Linked DNA regions of Homo sapiens: all the other regions are linked to region 4. Evidence: fine-mapped expression QTL. A gene starts in region 4. Each other region holds a variant in brackets. All regions are shown on one strand. Distances are from middle to middle.

Evidence for each region. PIP is the estimated chance that this variant, and not a neighbour inherited with it, causes the effect.
Region 1: its variant is the best candidate, but not a certain one, in a credible set for the expression of IGFBP7 in subcutaneous fat (TwinsUK, PIP 0.53).
Region 2: its variant is the best candidate, but not a certain one, in a credible set for the expression of IGFBP7 in monocytes (TOPMed, PIP 0.64).
Region 3: its variant is the best candidate, but not a certain one, in a credible set for the expression of IGFBP7 in whole blood (TOPMed, PIP 0.57).

What each region holds. Positions count from the first base shown.
Region 1 is chr4:57,086,364-57,091,513 of GRCh38, forward strand. All of the region lies in intron 1 of IGFBP7 (insulin like growth factor binding protein 7), which reads right to left. Among named protein-coding and RNA genes, the nearest start is that of IGFBP7-AS1, 21 kb to the right of the region's middle. The variant G/C (reference allele first, on the strand shown) is at 2,030.
Region 2 is chr4:57,078,128-57,083,277 of GRCh38, forward strand. All of the region lies in intron 1 of IGFBP7 (insulin like growth factor binding protein 7), which reads right to left. Among named protein-coding and RNA genes, the nearest start is that of IGFBP7-AS1, 29 kb to the right of the region's middle. The variant A/G (reference allele first, on the strand shown) is at 2,818.
Region 3 is chr4:57,165,051-57,170,200 of GRCh38, forward strand. All of the region lies in intron 1 of IGFBP7-AS1 (IGFBP7 antisense RNA 1), which reads left to right. Among named protein-coding and RNA genes, the nearest start is that of IGFBP7, 57 kb to the left of the region's middle. The variant C/G (reference allele first, on the strand shown) is at 2,144.
Region 4 is chr4:57,107,900-57,113,049 of GRCh38, forward strand. IGFBP7 (insulin like growth factor binding protein 7) reads right to left here and starts at 2,486. Exons shown (of 5, transcript NM_001553.3): 1 at 1,978-2,486. The coding sequence starts at 2,452. It overlaps IGFBP7-AS1 (IGFBP7 antisense RNA 1), which reads left to right and starts at 1,863. Exons shown (of 5, transcript NR_034081.1): 1 at 1,863-2,071. RefSeq lists a silencer at 2,555-2,624.

The DNA.
Region 1 (5,150 bases), 22 kb before region 4:
TTTTGAGAGTTCACGGGACCCAGGCTACTCAAGCCCCTTCCACCCTTTGGGTCCCTTGCACTCACCCACTAATGGACTTTCCAGTGAAAACCTGTTGGCTATGTTGAGATTTACCTATTATTGGATCTGTCATCACCTCATTACTGCCCTCTGTGTCTTTCCACCTAGCTGCTGACAGCCTGCAGGCTTGGTGGCATAGGTGGCTTGTTCCAACCCACTTATATTTTGGCATTTGTGGGGATAGCTTGTCACCTTTTTGTGGTAAATGTTTTCCATGGGGCTTGGGTTTTGGTATCTAGAGGATTTACGTTTTTGTTTTCTAATTTTAAAAAATTGTAGTAAAATACACATACAAATTTTACCATCTTATTTTTTATTTTTATTTTTGATTCCGAGTTTCGCTCTTGTTGCCCAGGCTGGAGTGTAGTGGCGCGATCTCAGCTCACTGCAACCTCCGCCTCCCAAGTTCAAGCGATTCTCCTGCCTCAGCCTTCTGAGCAGCTGGGATTACAGGCACATACCACCACGCTCAGCTAATTTTTGTATTTTTAGGAGAGACTGGGTTTCACCATGTTGGCCAAGCTGGTCTCGAACTCCTGACCTCAGGTGATCCACCTGTCTCGGCCTCCCAAAGTGCTGGGACCACAGGCGTGAGCCACTGCTCCTGATCTAGTGGCTCAGTTATTATGAGGAGATTGAATACAGGAGACCGACACACTGTTGCTGCTTCAGCCCCATTTAACGGTAACCCCCTGGAAACTGGAGTCTGTGTTCTGTGCCCCACAGCACCAGGATGGCACCTGACACATAGAAAACACTCACACATTTAAGTGATAAATGAGTCATTCTTAATTCCTCTGTCTTTTGGCAGGGTGATAGGATGCTTTCTTGTACTCATTAAAGTGATTGATGGATAACATAAAAGTTGCCATTGGTACCTGGACTAATACCTTTGCAGGTCAATATGCAGCATGAGCTTCTAGATGGGAAAACACTGCCAACCCTTGAGTACCCAACTAATGAAGGGCAGGAGAGGAACAGACTATCTCAAAAGGATGCCAATTTTAAAATACTTTATATTTTGCTCTGTATAAATTTGTTGTAGCAGATTCCTTACTAACTGTTTGGTTCTGGCTAATGTTATAACACAGGAGTCCCTGGGCACTACTTGCTGATAGTGATTTGAAGGGGAGGAGTGGACCAGAGGTATATAGGAAAAAAGTAAATAACTGACACAGCTATACGCAAGGTTATATCAGTTAACTGACTGGGCATATTTGAGAGTTGTTACTACAATAGTTGGTAAAGTCAGAGGGAATACAATCTTGGATTCATAAAGGCCTAACAGTTACAAAGGCTTTCAAATCTGTGACTTCGTTTATTTCCATAACCCTAACCCTAATCCTTTAATACAGGTCCTGCTTGCTCCATTTCACAGGTGAGACAACAGAGGGACAAAGAGATTAAGCAATGTGCCAATGATCACTGTTAGTCAATGTATAGTCAGGATTCAGATGCTTGGCCAGGTGTGGTGGCTTATGCCTGTAATCCCAACATTTTGGGAGGCTGAGGCAGGAGGATTCAGACTCTTTTCTTCTAAGTTTAGTACTTTATGTTTATTTTGATACAGGGCTTTGCTTTGTCACCCAGGCTGGAGTGCAGTGGCACAATCACGGCTCACTGCAGCCTCAAATTCCTAGGTTCAAGTGATCCTCCTACCTCAGCCTCCTGAGTAGCTGGGACTACAGATATGCACTACCACACCTGGCTAATCTTTTGTTTTGTTTTGTTTTGTGGAGACAGGGTCTCACTATGTTGCCCAGACTGGTCTTGAACTCCTAGTCTCAAGTGATCTTCCTGCCTCAGCCTCCCAAAGTATCGGGATTAGAGGTGTGAGCCACCATGCCCAGGCAGTTTAGTGCTTTTTACAGCACTATTGCTGTATCTGAAAAGCATGGTGATGTAAACTGCCACAAATATAATGTTAAAATAAGGTAGGCTATAAATTGTAAGTATATAAAAATATTGA[G/C]GTTCCGACCAGTTTGGGCAAGAACAGCCCTCATTTTCTCCATATAATACCATCCAATCATTCCTACCACTCTCAGTTTCTGCTTCTACCCTTCATCCCATCTCTAGTTATCCCTCCAGAAAAAGAGGGAAGAATGAAGGTAAAAGTACCATAGTATGACATTTGAGGGCTGTTTCTGAAGCATTAGCCACTACTACTAATGATAAAAGCAACGGCCAGATTGAGACCCTATTGTGTGGCAAGCACTATGCTTAGAACCTCATATGAAGTTAATACTCTCACCAACCCTTTGGGTAAGCAATATTGTCCCCACTTTAAAGATGACAAAACTGAGGTTAAGAGGAGCAACTTGCTGGCTGGGCACGGTGGCTCACGTCTGTAATCCCAGCATTTTGGGAGGTCAAGGCAGGCGGATCATCTGGAGGTCAGGAGTTCGAGACCAGCCTGGCCAACGTGCTGAAACCCCATCTCTACCAAAAAAATACAAAAATTAGCTGGGTGTGGTGTTGGGCACCTGTAATCCTAGCTACTTGGGAGGCTGAAGCAGGAGAATCGCTCAAACCTGGGAGGCAGAGGTGGCAGCGAGTGGAGATCACACCACTGCATTCCAGCCTGAGCAACAGAGTGAGACTCTGTCTCAAAAAAATAAAAAAAAAAAAAAAGAGAGGCAACTTGTCATTTAATAATCACACATTTAGTAAGTGGGGGAGTGGGGATTTGAACCCCACCCTCTCCAAAACATTAATCTCCATAACATGTATGACTTAAATAAGCTTAAAAACACTACAATAATTAGAAATTCACCTTACTTAGATCTGAGGATGAATTGAAGTTTATACAATTTATAAAAATGAAAGTAGACTTTTTTAAAGCAGTTTTACTGCATCTATCCATATACAATTATAACTTTTTCTGTTTTTGAGTTCATTTTAAAATTATCCCTTTCCACATATTAAATTAAATCAGGCAGGAACCCTCAATTCTGGTAGCCATTATTTCTGTGAAGGAAAGAGTGAAATGTCATTTCAAAATGGACTCTATGTGGTTTGACATCTTTCAGATAGGACTTCTTTCCACTGAACTTTGGGAAAGACATATTTGCTACAAAGCTTTCCATTTTTCCCCCCAGCTATGACCTATTTTATCATCTGATTTCACACTTCAGTGAAGTCTGATGGGGTCTGTGGTCTCTAAAACACTAAGCTTCTAGTCACCCTTTGAATTCACCTTCAGCAACTGTGTCTGAAATGAAAAGCTAAAAAGAACTGCTGCCCAGCTATGGCAGACAATGTAGCCGGCTGACTCAGCCCCAGTGTCCACCACCCCCTTCTCTGTCTCTTTTGACAATAGGGTGTCCCAGTGATCATTTCTGGCCAATGAGATTAGGCAGAAATTTGCTGAGTATGGGCTTCTGGGAAACATTTGCTCACCTGATATAATGGGACATGTGGCTGGCATTGTCCTTTTCTCTATTCCTTCTAAATGTCTTTAATGATGACGATGATCTGAGGTGCAGAAGCCTTCTTGCAATTATTAAGCATGTATACAAAAGCCAACATGCAAAGGATGATAGAGCAGAAAGAGTGAAAGGACCCTGGTCCTTGACAGCACTGCTGAGTGGTTAAAGCCACACCAGAAACCATCTACACCTAAACTCCCTGTTCTACAAGCAAATAAACCCCATTTTGGCCAAGCCACTAGAGCCAAGTTTTCTATTACTTGCAGCTGAACACATTCTTTACCAATAGACCAGCTATTGTCCTTCTTGGTCATCATTCTTCTCTTCCTCTTCCCCAAATCCCACCATCTCCTTATATGTTGAGGGATTGATTCAGAAAACTGCCGTCAACTGTTCCTTCACTCTTTGTTTGCGTAAGAATTTCCTGAGTCTTGCTACCATGAGAAACGTAGTATTTCCTGCTTTCTTGTCAGTGTCTGAAGTTAGGCTTTCTAGTTCTTATGATATACCCTATTGTTTTTAAGGACTTAGTGGGTCACAGTCACATCTTATTCTGTAGTGTTGAAACACACACACAAACAACAATAAAGTCTCCCCAGAGCACTCAATTTTATTCAAACTGACTGAACAGTTAATTTGTTCCTCACAAAGTTCTTAATGCTCTTCAGTGATAGAGGTTTTATTTTTAGAAAACATGTGAGAAGGCAGGGCATGGTGGCTCACACTTGTAATCCTAGCACTTTGGGAGGCTGAGGCGGGCAGATCACTTGAAGTCAGGAGTTAGAGACCAGCCTGGCCTATGTGGTGAAACCCCGTCTCTACTAAAAATACCCATACACACACAAAAATAGCCAGGTGTGGTGGTGCACGCCTGTAATCCTAGCTACTTGGGAGGCTGAGGTGGGACAATTGCTTGAACCCGGGAGGCAGAGGTTGGCAGTGAGCTGAGATTGCACCATTGCACACTCCAGCCTAGGTGACACAGCAAGACTCCATCTCAAAAAAACAAAACAAAACATGTGAGAGCAACAGTTTATTTGATCACCTTTTCTAGTTTAGTTAACATTTTTCACAGAAAATGAAATTATACATTGGTTATTTTATTCAGCAGAGCTCAGAGATCCAGGCCATGTGTATTCTTTGGGAGTTGGATCACCTGTAATTAACCACGCATATAGGAACCTGGGGGATAATTTTATCATGCTATGTTAGACAACTGCCACTGCCAACACCTGGAATTTAAGTTGCTTTAATTTACCAAAACAAAGCCTTAGAGTCTCTGGATGTGTTTCTTCAAAAACACACACACGGTTGAACAAAACAGGCAAAAGCATATGCACTTCCACATACTGGTAATGACCAGAGTAACTGGAGACTGTGGAAATGCAGAGTATTAACTATGCAGGGAATTTAATGTAGGAGATACAAGATTAGGAATGGAAGAACCATGAATGAATGAATGAGTGAGTGAAGCATATTTATGTTTAACTGCTTCTGACACTCAATTTTAGCTTCCTTTGGATTGAAATGTGGGTACATGTGTGTGTGTCCGTGTACACACCAACTCACCTGGATTCCTCATTCCAGCTTCATTCAATTCCCATTAGCAGTGGCTCTGCTTGGACACTCAAACACACTGAATCTTGGTTGCCTAATTTATTA
Region 2 (5,150 bases), 30 kb before region 4:
ACCCAACTGTGGCCACGGTAACAAAATCAACAGCAATACCTGTTCACTGACTGCTCACTATGGGCATTCATATGTGTAAATAATTTAACCCTCACGACAGCCCTGTGAGGTTCGTACTGTCTCCTATTTTACAGAGGAGGAAACTGAGACACAGAAAGGTCGAGTAACTTGCCCAGTGCTACAAGGCTCATAAATGATAGAGCTGGGATTAAAAAGCTAGACACCTCCTAACCACTATTCCATATTACCTCATAGGTAACCTAAAATTCTGCCTCAACAAATTAATTAGCCACTGCACAAGTAAACTACTTGGTGTAGCTGATGGGAAAGCGGTAAAACTCGATTTCAAACTTGTCTAAAAAAAAAAAAGAAAAATGGTAAAAGATCCACTGTTTGCCTTCAGTCTCCTCTTAGTCTTCAATGCAGTTCTTCCAGCTCTTAATCTGAAGAGCTTCGCTCCTGCTTAATGATTTCTCTTCCTCCCCTCTCACAGAACACCCTTACCCTTGATGGGCCAGTGATATAAATATGCATTTCCCATTCACTTGTGAGTTTAGGATTTTTTTTTTTTAAAGAGCTCTACCATGTTCCTTTGATCTTTGCTTTTTATGCAGACGGGGTCCACAGAGAACCAGCTAATCCAGAGCCTACAGAGCCCGGAGCACAGTCAGGCATTTCAGAAATGCACATGGATGGTAACTAGGAGATTTCTTGAACAATAGAAAGTTCCCAACAAAGCTGTTAGGGCTCAAGAGGACCAGCTCCACCACCCACCCCTGCTGATCTGGGAGCTGCTACCTGGGCTGAGCTGGCTCCCGTCCACAGGGCCCCCAGTTCTCTGGCTCAATTCAATACCTCCTGCTGCGGTGGCTTGTTTCTTCTTGTCCTGAATGTTGTTCTTCAGAGCTGATGATTAATGCCTTCCATTTAGGGTGAGAAAAATGACCTTGCTGTCTATGCAAGTGAGGATCATTTATTCCATCTACAAAAGCAGCACACATCTACTTGGCTCAACTCAGAGTATTTCTCTTTGCTGTCTTCTTGTTAAACACGATCGTTTCTTCAAGCGAGGTTTATGTTGTCTTGTGATTTCCCTTTTTTGGTGTGTGTGTGTGTGTTTTAAAAAAACAAATTGCAGGTGATACGTGGCATTTTGCATTGCTAAAATTCACATCCCACTGTACTTCATTAGTAAAAGCCATTTATCCCCCACCTTTCAACACTGCTGGCTGAGACGCAAATAGAACCATTTCAGTTTTCCAGTTGAACAGCCATGGGAAAAAAAAAAGAGCAGAGCCTTGCTTATCTCTGTGTTACACATTAACACGGTCCTCCTTTGCAGAGGTTCTTCAAGGTAGACAGACTTTAAAAAGTCAAATAATTGACAGAATAATTACCCTGGCACTCCAAGGCCAATGCAAATGCTGGGATGTAGCCTTCAGCTAAATTCTACACTGAAGTTTCAGTCTTCAGGAAAGTAATAGAAAATGAAATGCAAAGGAAAGGGAATTTCCCAATTTCTCCACTAAGATTTTTTTTAAACCTCAAGTGAAAAAAATCTAGTAAGTCAAATTCTATATGAAATCTTCCCAGTTATCTTCTGTCCAACATCTAACAGCGCTTTTCCTATCACTCTCATGCTATTTGTCTCATTAATAATTGTTAATAATAAAAGTTACTACTGTCCTTACCATTGCCTCTATTATCATTTACTGAGTTTACTGTATGCCAGGCACAGTGCAGGCTCATCCATATATTATCTCAGGTAATCCTCACAGAAATCTAGTTAAGTGGCTATGCTTATTACCCCATTGTAGAGATGAGGAATTGGAGGCTTTGAGAGGTTAAATAACTTGCCCAGAATCACAGAGCACATGGGAAGCAGAGCCAGGATTCAGGGTAGGTTTGACTCTAGAACTTCCATCCTGACCACGATTCCCACGGTTTTCTGAGTGATGGCCTATTGACATGGCCCTTTAGCCCAACACAGGGTCTCCCACAGGGCTTGGTGGGTACCTGAATGAATGAATGACTACAAGAATGAATGAACCAATGACAAAGTGAATGAGATTTCTGAAGACTGGATTTTCAAAATAACATACTTTATCTCAGTAAGAAAAGCAAGAAATGTCTAAAACTGAGTATGGGAATACTTAGGACTTTAAAATGAGATAATTTCTCTACCTGTCTAAGATTCAAAGGAGGGAAATTGACACTGCTGCATTCTACTCACATTGCCCGAGTGCTCCAGCCTACAGGGGTTATAGCTGAAACAACGGAAGCTGATATATTCAAAAGAATATTGATTGCAGACACACGAAGGGTTTTCCTAAAGTTGGTATCAGAACCTTTCTTCCAATACTGAGTCCCCATCTTCCCATTTAGAGGAAGATTTTGAGTGAAATTTATTTTATTTTTTGAGACAGGATCTCACTTTTCACCCAGGGTGGAGTGCAGTAGCATGATCATGGCTCACTGCAGCCTCTAACTCATAGGCTCAAGTGATCCTCCCACTCCAGCCTCCTAAGTGGCTGGGACTACAGATGTGCACCACCACACCTGGCTGACATTTTCTTTTCTTACTTTTTATTTAGAACTGACCAGAGAGAATACTAGTCTTACTCACTCACCCTATGCCTACCGTGCACACCGATCCAGGAAATGTCAGGAGACAAACCAAACAGCCAATGAAAAGGAAAATGCTAAAAGACATTAGCTGGATCAGCACCACCAATGAAAGTGTGTTGGGTCACAAAAACGACCTGCAGCTTTCCTTTCCACTGCCAAGGGGATATCTCTGTTGGCTTCCGCTCATCA[A/G]TCTCTCCTCCTTGGCCCTGGCCAATGTTCTCAGAATGTCTCCGGTGGGCTGAGGATGCTGACAGATGCCATCTGGTCCTTCTCACCTTTCCTTTCCTGGAAGTCAACACCCATTTCCTCTATGGAGCTTCCCCCTTTTGTCAGCAGGGGAAGTGAAGATCCCAACCTGGGTACTTAAAATGGGCCTTGAGTGATACTTTCTGGAACATTCTTAGCTTCAGGGCAGGGCCCAGGGAAAGTGCCTCTAATGATCCTAATGTTAGTTTTAAACTTGCTTGGTAATCACTTTGGAATTGCCCATTTTTTTTTCACAGAGCTTTCTGGCCCATACTCAGCTATGGGTTCTAAGTCTGAAAGCCTGTTAGGGCATTAAAAATGACAGCTGTTAAAATGCTTAAGAATTATGAAGGGAGGAAGCTAATGCTTAGATTTACCCCCCACCAGCCCCTCCCACTCACACCATAGACCACATATTTTCCCCTCAGAAAGGAAAACATTCCTGACCTCTGTTTAAATGTTTATCAGAAGTTGTCTGGACTTGTAAATTCTCTGAAGTCACACTCTTTATTAGTCACATCCTTCTTGGTGTGTGGTGTGACCCTTCTATCAGGGCAGGGGGAATGTCGGGCCTTGTGCAGAAATCATTTGGTGCGGGAAACATCAACCACCACCCAGAGATTTTCATGTAGCCCAAACACAAGCAGAAGCTGAGCAAGGACCTTGAGCTTCCCCATGGTGGCAGGGCTTCCGTTTTGAATATGTGTGAAAAAAATTCCTTAGTTCTGAGTCCGCTGGGGCCTTGATTTTAAAACAAAGCCCCAGCATGAAGTCTGGCTCCAGAGAAAGAAAAGTGGAAGTTCTAGGTCCTCAGCACAAAATAAAGGACTATTCAGAGTTCTATTCTGGCTCCAAAGTGCTGCTGCTTTGGGTTTGCAATTGAATCACCCTGCCTTCCTGGTCCTTTGACGTTGATAACTTAGCTTCTACTTGGGATTCTGTGTAAACAGTTTGCATCCAACAGACTTTGGCTTACCAGGTGAAAGGCACTGTTGTAGAACCGACTCGGGGATGCTGGTGTGTGAGAAAGAAAGGTACTACTAGAGCAACAGAAAATGCACTGATTAGCAAGTAGGGGAAGTGGGTTTTGGTACCATTTCTCCCCACATTTTACTTAGTCCTCAGTTTTTTCATCTGTAAAATGGAAAGGTTGAAGCAATGATCTAGGAGGTCCTTTGGGGTCAAGAATCCTCTTTGTCTCTACATCAGAAGTGGAGGAACAGGTGTGAGTTTCAGCCCAAGGAATATCAGTTATAATAAGAAAGACTTTCCTGAGAGAAGGCTGAGTTTACAAAGGATGCTCTGTGATTTTCCTCTTTTGACCAGTGTGGGTCCCAAATCGCGGTCTCAGAGAGCTCTTCTGGGACCTGCGTCTTTGGAGTTGCCATGTTTGAAATCTCTTAGACTAAGATGATACAGGGAAGTGGTTAGGGAAAGGTTAATGATGAACTGAAATATCACCCCAGAATCATTCTAGATCTATGAGTGTATAGTTTTAAATTTGAATCAAGTTTTTGGTAATTAGAAGAAGGAAAGAAAAGAACCTTCGAAATTTAGTTATGAGGAATATCAATGATGTAGTGGTTCAGTATTCTTTTAAAATATTTTGTTGCTATTTAAAAAATGCAAAAGTGCATGCTCACTGTAACAATTCAAATATACAAATATATAAAGAAGCAGCAAGTTGTCTACTTTTACCTCCTGATAATCCTAACCCCCCAACAACTTATATAAACTGTTTATACATATAGTTTTTATTTTTTTAATGAAAATTTCATACCTATTAACATGCAAGCTGCTTTAAATTTTTTTTAAAGTTTTATTTTAAGACACAGGGTTTGTCTATGTTGCCTAGGCTTATCTTGAACTCCTGGCCTCAAGCTTCCTGAGTAGCTGGGTCTACAGGTGTACACCACCACACCTGGCTTAAACTGCCTTTTTTTCAGTGAACAATCCATGTATTATGTATTAGCTTTATTAGTTCAATACACATAAATCAAATTCATTCTTTCCAATAGCTGCAAAATGTCCCCAAACATGGGCATAATTCTTTAAGAATATTCCAGATGTTCCAAATTCTTCTATATACAAACTATGATACAATAAATATTCTTAATACTTATGTCCCTATGCGTTAGCACTTTTGTTTCTGTAGGAGAGGTTTCCAGAAATAAGATTGCTGGGTCAAAGGGTATGAGAATGTTTAATTTTAATAAATACTCCTAGATTACTTTTGAAAAGCTTGTTAGGAATTCTGGTCTTGGCAATAGTGCAGG
Region 3 (5,150 bases), 57 kb after region 4:
TGGGCCAATCAGAGTCTTTTGAGATTTTGGGACTGGAATGTTGAAAAGAATGGTCTGGTGAAAATATGGAGAGCTCTGTAGCTTCTCTGTAGCGAAGAATCTGTAGACAAAGGGGTGTGTAAAAGATGAGTTGCCTGAGGGAGCAGGCTGAGGTAGGAGGAGGACAGAGCAGACAGAGGTAGTGGAGAGGGCCAGAGTGCCCCAGAAAGCTCTGTTTCGTTCCTCAAGAAACTCAACAGTCTCTTAATTTTGGAAGGTTTTTCTTTTTAAACTTTTTAAATTATTATTATTATTTTTTTTTTTTAGAGACAGCCTTGCTATGTTGTCCAGGCTGGTCTCGAACTCCTGACTTCAAGTGATCCTTCCACCTCGGCCTCCCAAAGCACTGGGATTGCAGGTGTGAACCACTGTGCTTGGCCTATGAAGGTTTTTCTATATTCTGTCCATAGCCCCTTCATCTTGAGCCAGTGCAGAACTGTAGCTAATTCATGAAGAAGCAGAGGACATGAAAAGGAAGGAAAGGGAAGACGGGCTGCTGACAGAATCAGCAAGGTTTAGCAGGCAGCTCCACTGGGCTGGCAGAGTTGGGAGGTTAGTGGCTGTTGTGGTGGTCGGGGAAGCAGAGAGGTTAAATTCCACATTCCCATGAACTTACCACTCCCCTTCCTGAAAATCCCCACATCCCACCTATTGCTGGATCTTAGCAGGTTGGTCAGCCATGACTCCAAAAGTCAAATGCATTTGCAAGTGTCACTAGACTTGTGGAGTGGGATAATACCAAAAGACAAACCCTGTCAAGTATTTATGGAATGCTTATTTTATAAGCATTTAAGGAAAGGGCTGAGGTGAGAAATAAAACTGAGTAAGATAAGATGCCTACCTTCAAGGAGATCCTCAGGGAACACAGGCACTTGAACATAGCACGGGCACTAACATAGAATTAAGTTCAAAATGCCACATGAATACATACAGGAGAAGGGAAAATTAACTCCGCCTTTGATGAGGGTGGGAAGGAGCCAGGGAGAACTTCAAAAGGGGAGGTGACTTTTGAGCTGGACCTTGAAGGATGAGTAGGAGTTTGTCAGACAGAGAAGAGAGATTTGCATTCTAGGGAAAGAGAGCAAAGTGTCAAAAGAATACAAGTGCATGGTGTATAGGAAGACTTTTAGTACTGTGGAGTATCTTTGTTGTATGCATATGGGGTTGGGGTTGGGGTTGGGGGTGTCAGTGGCAGCAGATGACAGGGAAAAAGGAGGCAAGGGCCAGAATGTGAAGGACCTTGAATGTCAAGATTAGGAGCTTGGACTTGATCCTGAGGACACTGTGAAGCCACAGAAGCTTTTAATCAGGGAGTCTTATATTAGCTGCCTTTGGAAGGACAACCGCAGACTGAATAGAGGATGCCTGGAAAGAGGAGAGAGCAGAGGAGGTCAGTCACATCGCCTGAACTCAGCTGCAGCTGATAAACTTTCTAGCAATATCCTGGGGCTTAGAGAAGAACAGGCAGGCTGTACATTTTAACTGATTGAAGCATTGTCCTCAAGGAGGGCTGATGAATCCGTGCATGCTCACCATTAGCACGGAGGGTCATGGTTCTACTACTGAGCCACAGGGTGCTGCATTCATTCATTAATTCATCCAGCAAACATTCATTAAATGTCTCCAAGGGCCCAGTTTAGTCTGTCCTCTTCAGCCTCAGGGATTGGTTCCACCATACCGAGGGTACCAAATCCACAAATGCTCAAGTCCCTTACATAAAATGGCATAGAACAGTTGGCCATTTGGTAGATTCACCAACCAAGAATGGAAAATATGTACGTACAGCTGGCCTTCGGTGTCACTGGGTCTTTATCAGCAGCTGGTTGAATCCATGCATGCAAAACCGGTAGATACAGAGGGCCAACTGTACAGCTTTGGTGCTAAGGATAACATGGGCAGGAAGTAGGCATGGCCCCTGCTATCATAGAGTCTGTTGTTGAGGGAGAGAGACAGCTATTAATCAGATGATTTCATGACCTAGTGCATAAATTTCCCATTTGGAAGGAAAAGAATATAGTTCGGTGAAAGTGTATAACAAAGAACTCCCCCTGGCCTCAGCTTTGGCTAAGATGCAGAGCACTACTGGGAATTTACCAGGTGAGAG[C/G]AGGGGGTTGCAGGAGAAGGAGCAGAATGTGCAAAGGCCCCGTGGCCTGAAAGAACATGGTATGGTTGAGGAACTGGAAGACTGTGTGATAGGGCATCAAAAGAAGACTGAGATGAGCTAGTGAGAGAGACAGGAGCCAAGCCATTGGATCTTTTCCTGTCCAGGTCAAGCTTTAGATAAAGTATTTGTTTAGAAGAATAGGTCAGTTAAATCTGAATGATGCAAAGCTGAGAGGACAAGTGGAACATTTGAATTGCAGAATCAAGATTTAAGACAATCTTGCAGGTCTAAATTAAAAGTGATGGAATTAAACAAATGTAAAGTTCTACATTTATGTTAAAAGTTTTAATTGACTTGCAAAGCTTTGTGTATAAGGATGCTTATCACTGCATATTTATAGCAGTGAAAACATGGGAAAGAAGAAATATGCAACTGTAGGAAAATGATTAAATATGCGATGTGTTAAAAAAAAATGAGAACATTAGCACTGAAGGTTACTTGGGTTCAAATGCTAGCTTCTTTTACTAGCCGTAGGTCATTGGACAAGTTACGTAAACTTTTTGTGCCTCAGTTTTCTTATCTAGCATATGGGGTTAATAATACTGCCTCACATAGTAGATACTAAATAACCGCTACATCAGTTTTAGCTATTGTCATTACCTAGTAGTATTATGTTTACAAATATGTTTAATGTCATTAGAAAATGCTTGATAGATAATATTAAGTGGGGAAAAACATATAGCATTATGCAGTTTAATACCATTTTGTTGCAAATTGTGTGTATTTGTATTTTTGTGTTGCTTATGTCTTTTGCTTCAACTTGGGGTGTAAGAAATGATCACATGTGGCCAGGCGCGGCAGCTCACGCCTGTAACCCCAGCACTTTGGGAGAGCGAGGCAGGTGGATCATGAGGTCAAGAGATGGAGGCCATTCTTGCCAACATGGTGAAACGCTGTCTCTACTAAAGATACAAAAAATTAGCTGGGAATGGTGGCATGCACCTGTAGTCCCAGCTACTCGGGAGGCTGAGGCAGAAAAATCACTTGAACCTGGCAGGCGGAGCTTGCAGTGAGCCGAGATTGCGCCACTGCACTCCAGCCTGGTGACAGAGTGAGACGCCGTCTCAAAAAAAAAAAAAAAAAAAATGAAATGGTCACATGTCTCCACTGAACTGAGTCATTGATCTCCTCTTCCCAGCACCATGAGAACCATCCCCTGACCAGCTGTGACAGCGCAGACAGGAATGGCCCAAGGCTGGGTAGCCAACAGCTTTCACCAGTCTGCAGGATGGTAGCATGCATAGATTTATCAGCATTAACATGCTCGTTTCTCTTTCCCAGTGTTTTCCTTTCTGTGATACATTTAAGGTTCCACAGTCCCAGTTTATTCAGGCTAAAGGATCAGTGATACTCCCAAATCCCTTGTAGAGACAGCACTGGAAAATATGATGGGTCCACCGTGGGCTGCATTTGCTGTTCCCTAACACCAGTGCCTGCTAAAAGCAGCTGTCCACACAGCCTTGAGCTATCACTGTCTGTGCTGTCACAGCTGGTCAGGGGATAGTTCCTACGGAGCTGGGAAGAGACCTCTTCTCACTGTCTTATGCCAGCACGGCTCTGGGTTCTCAATGTTTCAGCCTCTTAGTTTGTCCTCATATATACGATTCTCAAACCATGCCCATGGGGCTGCAGTGGCTGCTGCGGTAGAAGGTTCCAGCCTTGGCAATGTGCTATACCTACAACACCTCCCCACTAACACCAACAATTTAGTAATCCAGGCTCCTGCAGAGGACCCACTGAGCTTATCAGAGATGTTTGGAAACGAGTGAACCTAAGGAGAAGTAGTTGGGAGTCTTGATTTGTTTTCTCCTAGGAGGCTTCTAGCCCCCCTCTCAAATGGGCTCAACTATTTAGTACTTCCCAGTGACATTTGGCCTTGGTATCCTGGGGAACAAATGGGGAGCTGAGAAAAAACATTGCCTGTGACTAACATTCCTGCCTTTGGTCGATGAGCGCCTCTGCCTTAAATTTGCAAAGCTAAAAGAAACTGCCTGGGTGATTGTTTCCAGAACAAAAAAATGTGTCCCAGGATGACTTGTTAGACATGGAAGTGGCTGGCAACTTTTAACTTGCAGATTTTCTTGCTAAAAGTTTAAAATTCTGTCTCATTGGGGATACTGCTACATATTCATGAAAAAGAAATTGACTATTAAGAACTACACCACAATATTAGCCATGCCTACCTTTGAGTGGTGGGATTCCAATGGACTGTTTTATTTTTTATTTTGTTTTGTTGTTCAGATTTCTGACAACAAATATGTATTACTTTCACAATTAGAACTATAGATCCTGCCAATAAGTTTACTTAGATCCGTCCTATTTGTTTCAAATGACAACCCCATCCCTGGCAGGCAGATTTGGCTCTCCCTTGGTACCAGTGAGAGGCCACTGGGTCTGTAATACAGGAGTTCTGTATAGCCACAGAGAAGGAGGTTTGCAGTTAACCTCCATTCTGGGCTCTAACTCTCTCTGAGTTCTAAGTCCTCCAACAAGGCTGCCATTCACAGCCACCCCTTCCCAAAGGCTGCCATTGGGAAGTGTGTGTAGGGTCCCCAAGTCCACCCTCAGGTTTGATGATTCACTAGAAGGAGTCAGAGAACGCAGAAAAGCTGTTATACTCCCAGTTATGGTTTATAGAGCAAAAGATACAGATTAAAATCAACAAAGAAAAAAGATATACAGAGTAGAGTCAAGGAGAAATTAGACAGAAGCTTCCAGATGTTGTCACCCAGTGGGGTCACATGGATACCACTTAATCCCCCCAGCACTGATGTGTGGCAACATGCATAAAGTATTGCCAATTTGAGTCTTGGTGTTCAGGGTTTCTATGAGGGGTAAGTGACATAGGAAAAGAACACTTATGTGGCTGACCTTAGCTGCTGAGGCTGCAGCTTCCCCAGAGGTCAAACTGATGGAGCATGGTCGGGTGAATCAAACCAAGGATTTG
Region 4 (5,150 bases):
TGAGAAAAAGGAATATTAAGTATAAACTAGAAATTGACAACACTTGAACAATCACCAAGCTAACCTTCTGCTCTGATAAGGCAAGTATCTGCCATTTTGAAAAAACTATAAAGTTCCCCATTGTAATGTTTATAAGAAAATCTCAATATTTGGAATAAATTCTTAAATAACGCACATTTATCTTTTCATGATGTGACCGACAAATGAGATCCAAAGTAACAAATAACTGTTTCTATTGTAAACATATGCAGATTATTTTGGGTTGCAATTTTCTAAGTTTAAGGTGATGATACTATAAATAGTTACTAGTGAGTTACACAATTTAAGGCTTTCAATAGTGAACTCTGAAATTGATGACATACAACCTATTAGTTTGTGGACTTCTGGGAAAAGCTCTAAAGAAAGAATTTGGAAATTCTGGAGAAAGTCTGAACTGTGTTAAAGAAGCAACAGCTTCTGTAACCTCAGAACTGCCTCCTCTCCCTTTTCTACCTTGGCTAAGATCAGGAGCTGCCAACATTGAATGTCTGACTTTCCCTTGAAAATACTGCCAATGGAAAATGTTATTTCAGGCATTAGAGTTAAAATTTCTATGTGTGTGTGTATGTGCGTGTATTTGCAAGTCCAGACTTTATTTTCTTCTTTCTTTCTTTTTTTTTTGAGATGGGGTCTCTGTCTGTCACCCAGGCTGGAGTGCTGTCATGTGATCTCGGCTCACTGCAACCTCCGCCTCCCAGATTCAAGCGATTCTCCTGCCTCAGCCTCCTGAGTAGCTGTGATTACAGGCATGCACCACCATGCCCAGCTAATGTATATATATATATTTTTTATTAGAGATGGGGTTTCACCGTGTTGGTCAGGCTGATCTCGAACTCCTGACCTCGTGATCTGCCCATCTTGGCCTCCCAAAGTGCTGGGATTACAGACGTGAGCCAACCCACCCGGCCTATTTCCTTATTTCATTTACAGCAAGCTTGGACTTGTTTGGAATAAAATAAACAATCAAACATAATCTCAAAGACATTTCTGCTGAACAGTGTATCCTGGGGACAAATTATGCAAAACAATACAAATCAAAGAAATAGGAAGGAAAAACAAAATGGTCAGAAGGTTGACAACAAAGTGCATCACAAAAACAGTCTTCAAAGAGTTTGTATTTTATTTTTGCCCACAAATAATTAGCTAGTTAGATTACTGTTTGAGAACCTATAATTTTTAGAAAGTGGACTATTTTCTTCAATACTAAGAAATCAGGGCTGTGCACGGTGGTTTATGCCTGTAATCCCAGCAGGCCGGGATTACTTGAGCTCAGGAGTTCGAGACCAGCCTAGGCAACATAGTGAAACTCCGTCGCTATAAAACAAAACAAAACAAAACAAAAAACCAAAAATTGGCCAGGCGTGGTGGCACAGGCTTATAGTCCCAGCTACTTGGGAGGCTGAGGCAGGAGGATCGCTTGAGGCAGAGGTTGCAGTGGGCCAAGATCGTGCCACTGCCCTCCACCCTGGGCGACAGAGCAAGATCCTATCTTTTAAAAAAAAAAGTCTGTCTGGAAGTCCTTACTTTATATTTAATTGTCAAACTCCTTTCCCCCATCTCTTGACTTCACCTCTCTCTACATCCCCAAGCCAAGAATGATGAGAAATGGACAGATGTTAGCACGAGTTGGGTGCGCTTTGGGCATGGGGAAGTCTGAGGTCTCGGAAAATCTTTTCTACATATACACCCGGCCCTCACTTTCTGGACGCACGCAGCAAACTCTCAAAATAAAACCACCAAAAAGGAGAAGGGGGGGCGTCGCCCACCGCTCCTGGCATTCCGCGGCTGCCAACTCTTTCCCTCCCATCTGGCTCCTGGGATGCCCGCGGGGGAATCGCAGTGAGCAGCGCGGGGCGAGGCCGCCGCGGACGCCCCGTCGGATGTGCCCTTCGCTGGGCCGAGCGGCGCAGGGTTGGAGAGGGAAGCGCTCGTGCCCACCTTGCTCGCAGGTGCCCTTGCTGACCTGGGTGATGGCCTTCTCCCCGCGGCTCTCGGCCCTCTGGCTGGCGGCGCGCAGCTGGCAGCCGCTCGGGTAGGTGGTGCCGTCGCTGCCGCACACCGGGTAGCGGCTCTTGCACACGCACACGCCGCTTACACCCGGACCGCCGGCTGCTGCCCCGGCTTTACCCTTCCGCCTCTTGCGGCTCTTCACGCACTCCATGCCCGGCGCGCAGTACCCCCTGCCGGCGCCGCCACCCCCGCACGGCTCGCCCTCGCCGCGGGCGCACATAGGGCAGCAGCCGCACGCGTCGCGGGTCTCGCCCAGCAGGCAGCCCAGCGGGGGCAGGGGCGGGCAGGAGGCCGGCTCGCAGGGGCCGCAGGTGTCCGAAGAGGAGGAAGAGGAGAGGGGCAGGAGCAGGAGCAGCAGCCCAGCGGCGCCGAGGAGCAGGGCGCGCAGCGACGGCCGCTCCATGGCGGGGTGCGGTGGCAGCGGCAAGGGCGCGAGTGAGCCGTGTCGGGCCGGCCGGCGCCTTAAACCCGCCGCCCCGCCCGGCCTGTCCGCGGGAACCACACCCCGGGGCGGTGAGAGCACGGGGGCCCCGCCCGTGCCGCCCTCCCGGCCCCGCGGGGCCTGCGCGCGCGCTCCTGCTGGCGTCGGGGGGTGAGCGGGCACCCGGCGTGACCGGCCCATGGGCGCTCGGTCTCACGCCCGCTTCGCAGAGCTCACCCCGCCAGCTCCTGCTCGGTCCCCAGTCCCCTGCCCCGAGCCCTCAGGGATCGCACCGCAGTGCGAGCGGCTCTTCCACCCTCTGGTTTCTCCCCGTTTCCGGTCAATATATTTAAACTTCTTAACAACCACGGCTTCGAGACGATCCAGGGTTTCATCTATTAAATCCTCCGTGGGCCTGAGACACCTGAGTGCTCATTACTCTGTGGTTTGGGAAGCTCTCTTAAGAACAAGCTGTTAAAAACCCCCACTTGTGGACTGTGTCCCCGCTGGCCACAGGCCTGCTGTGGTCTTGGGTGTCAAGCACTAAAAGGACAAACCGTTGCCAACCACTTCCCTTTCTGGAACCTCTTAACTGCCTGCACCTCCCTCCCCGCTTTGTCTCCCAGTGGCATTCAACAAGACTCTGTGCTTTTTTTGTGCTGAGCCGTTTTCAGTGAGTACTGGAATCCGTGTGAGAGCTGTGCCCTTGTTTTGAGTTCTTGCTGAACTGCTCGCCCTCCAGCAAGCCTCTCGGGAGAACAGAGCGCAGCTGAGAGGAGCAGGGGTCCCAGCTCCTTCCTCGTTGGAGCTGCCACGGAGGCACCTAAAGCGCCCCCAGTCTTCACCAGCATTCCAGGAGGTTTTTGATATAAACGGTGGACTCTTCCTCAGTCTTTCTGCGAAGTGCTCTGCAAACTCAACTTGAAAGCCTCTCTTCCCAGGAACACTGGCCTCTCCAATGCAGACATGGAAGTTGCTTTCACTTTTTAACTGAATGTGTAACATTGCAGCGTGCATTATTCTGCATGTCACATTGTGGTTCTTTTGTGTTCTTTTTTCTTAGCATAAATCCAGGGATTTACAGGGTTGCTGACTGAAAGCCAGCAGTTCAGTTCATAATCCCATTAGCAGTGTAAAGAACTCATTCTCAACAGACTCTTACAAGGATAATTATTGCAAATTTTTTGAAAATTAAATGACCACAAAATCGGGGGGTGGAGAGTGGGGAAACATCCTCCAATCCAGAAAAACCTAGCACTGCTTTTTGGCCTCTCCTTAGTGTATTATAGACAAGTGGAGCATTTTTTTTCCCCTCAAAGGTCATATGTTGACCTGACAGTTGTTTAAAAAACAATGAAAAATCTTTACAGCAGAGTTTCCCTAAATATTTTTGTCTTTGTTCCATCCTAAGAGATGCAGTTTACATGACCCATTTGTTTTCTTGAAAAGGAAACAAATGCAGAGTGCACTCTATTTCCTATTGTATTTAATTTCTTTCTTTCTTTCTTTTCTTTTCTTTCTTTTTCTTTTTTTTATTTTTTTGAGATGAAGTCTCCCTGTGTCGCCTAGTCTGGAGTGCAGTGGTGAGATTTTGGCTCACTGCAACCTCTGCCTCCCAGCTTCAAACAATCCTTCTGCCTCAGCCTCCCGAGTAGCTGGTATTACAGGCATGCACCAACATGCCCGGCTAATTTTTGTATTTTTACTAGAGACAGGGTTTCACCATGTTGCCCAGGCTGGTCTCAAACTCCTGACCTCAAGTGATCCACCTGCCTCGGCCTCCGAAAGTGTTGGGATTACAGGTGTGAGCCACTATGCCCGGCCCTGATTTCCTTTTTATTAATTCACTGGTCAAGAGCCACTAAATTGGTTCCATGATCTAGTATGACGATCTGTCATAGTTTTAGATTCTCCAGAAGCTTTCTCTGAGACAAGGATTCCAGTGCAAGTAGGTCACCTGAGAAGCCACATCAGGACACAGAGATTGAGGGTTGGGGCAGGCAGGTGAGCAAGCAGGAAGGGAAGACAGCCAATAAAGGTGCTTATCTCCGCAGCCAGAAGAAGCCCTCAGGCTCTACAAACTGTGTGTGTGTGTGTGTGTGTGTGTGTGTGTGTGTGTGTGTTTGCGTGTGTAGGGCATGTGGGTGGGCAGTGGCAGCAGCTGTACACTAAGAGCTGTCACCCACAGTGTGTGGAGGTCCTGCATCAGAGCCAACAGTGAGAATGCAAGCATGTGCTACAGCGGAGTCCCTTTGAGGAACCTCCTCACTGCCCAGCAAGCAAAGAAAACAAGCAAGTTTCTGGTCACTGAAAGGGGAACCCGAGCTCTGTGATAGTGCCAGTCGAGCTGGAGGACCTGAAAACAAGAAGAGATGTTAGAAAAAAGGCAGGTGAATGGAGCCTTTAAAGAGCAAGTTGACAACTCCACCCTTCCAATAACAGATATATTGTCACCTGTTCAGCTTCAGTTTTAGTGAGGTGGAGAGGCTGGATGTGGAGATGGAGATATTTTTACTTCTTCCTGTTTAATTGGTGCCTTTTGTTTCTTTTTCTTGCTTAATTGCCCTGGTTAGAACCTCCAGTATAATGTTGAATAGAAGAGGTGAGTGGACACCCTTGTCCCAGTCCTCACCTTAGAGGGAAAGTTGTTAGTTTTTCACCACTAAGTATGAAGTTAGCT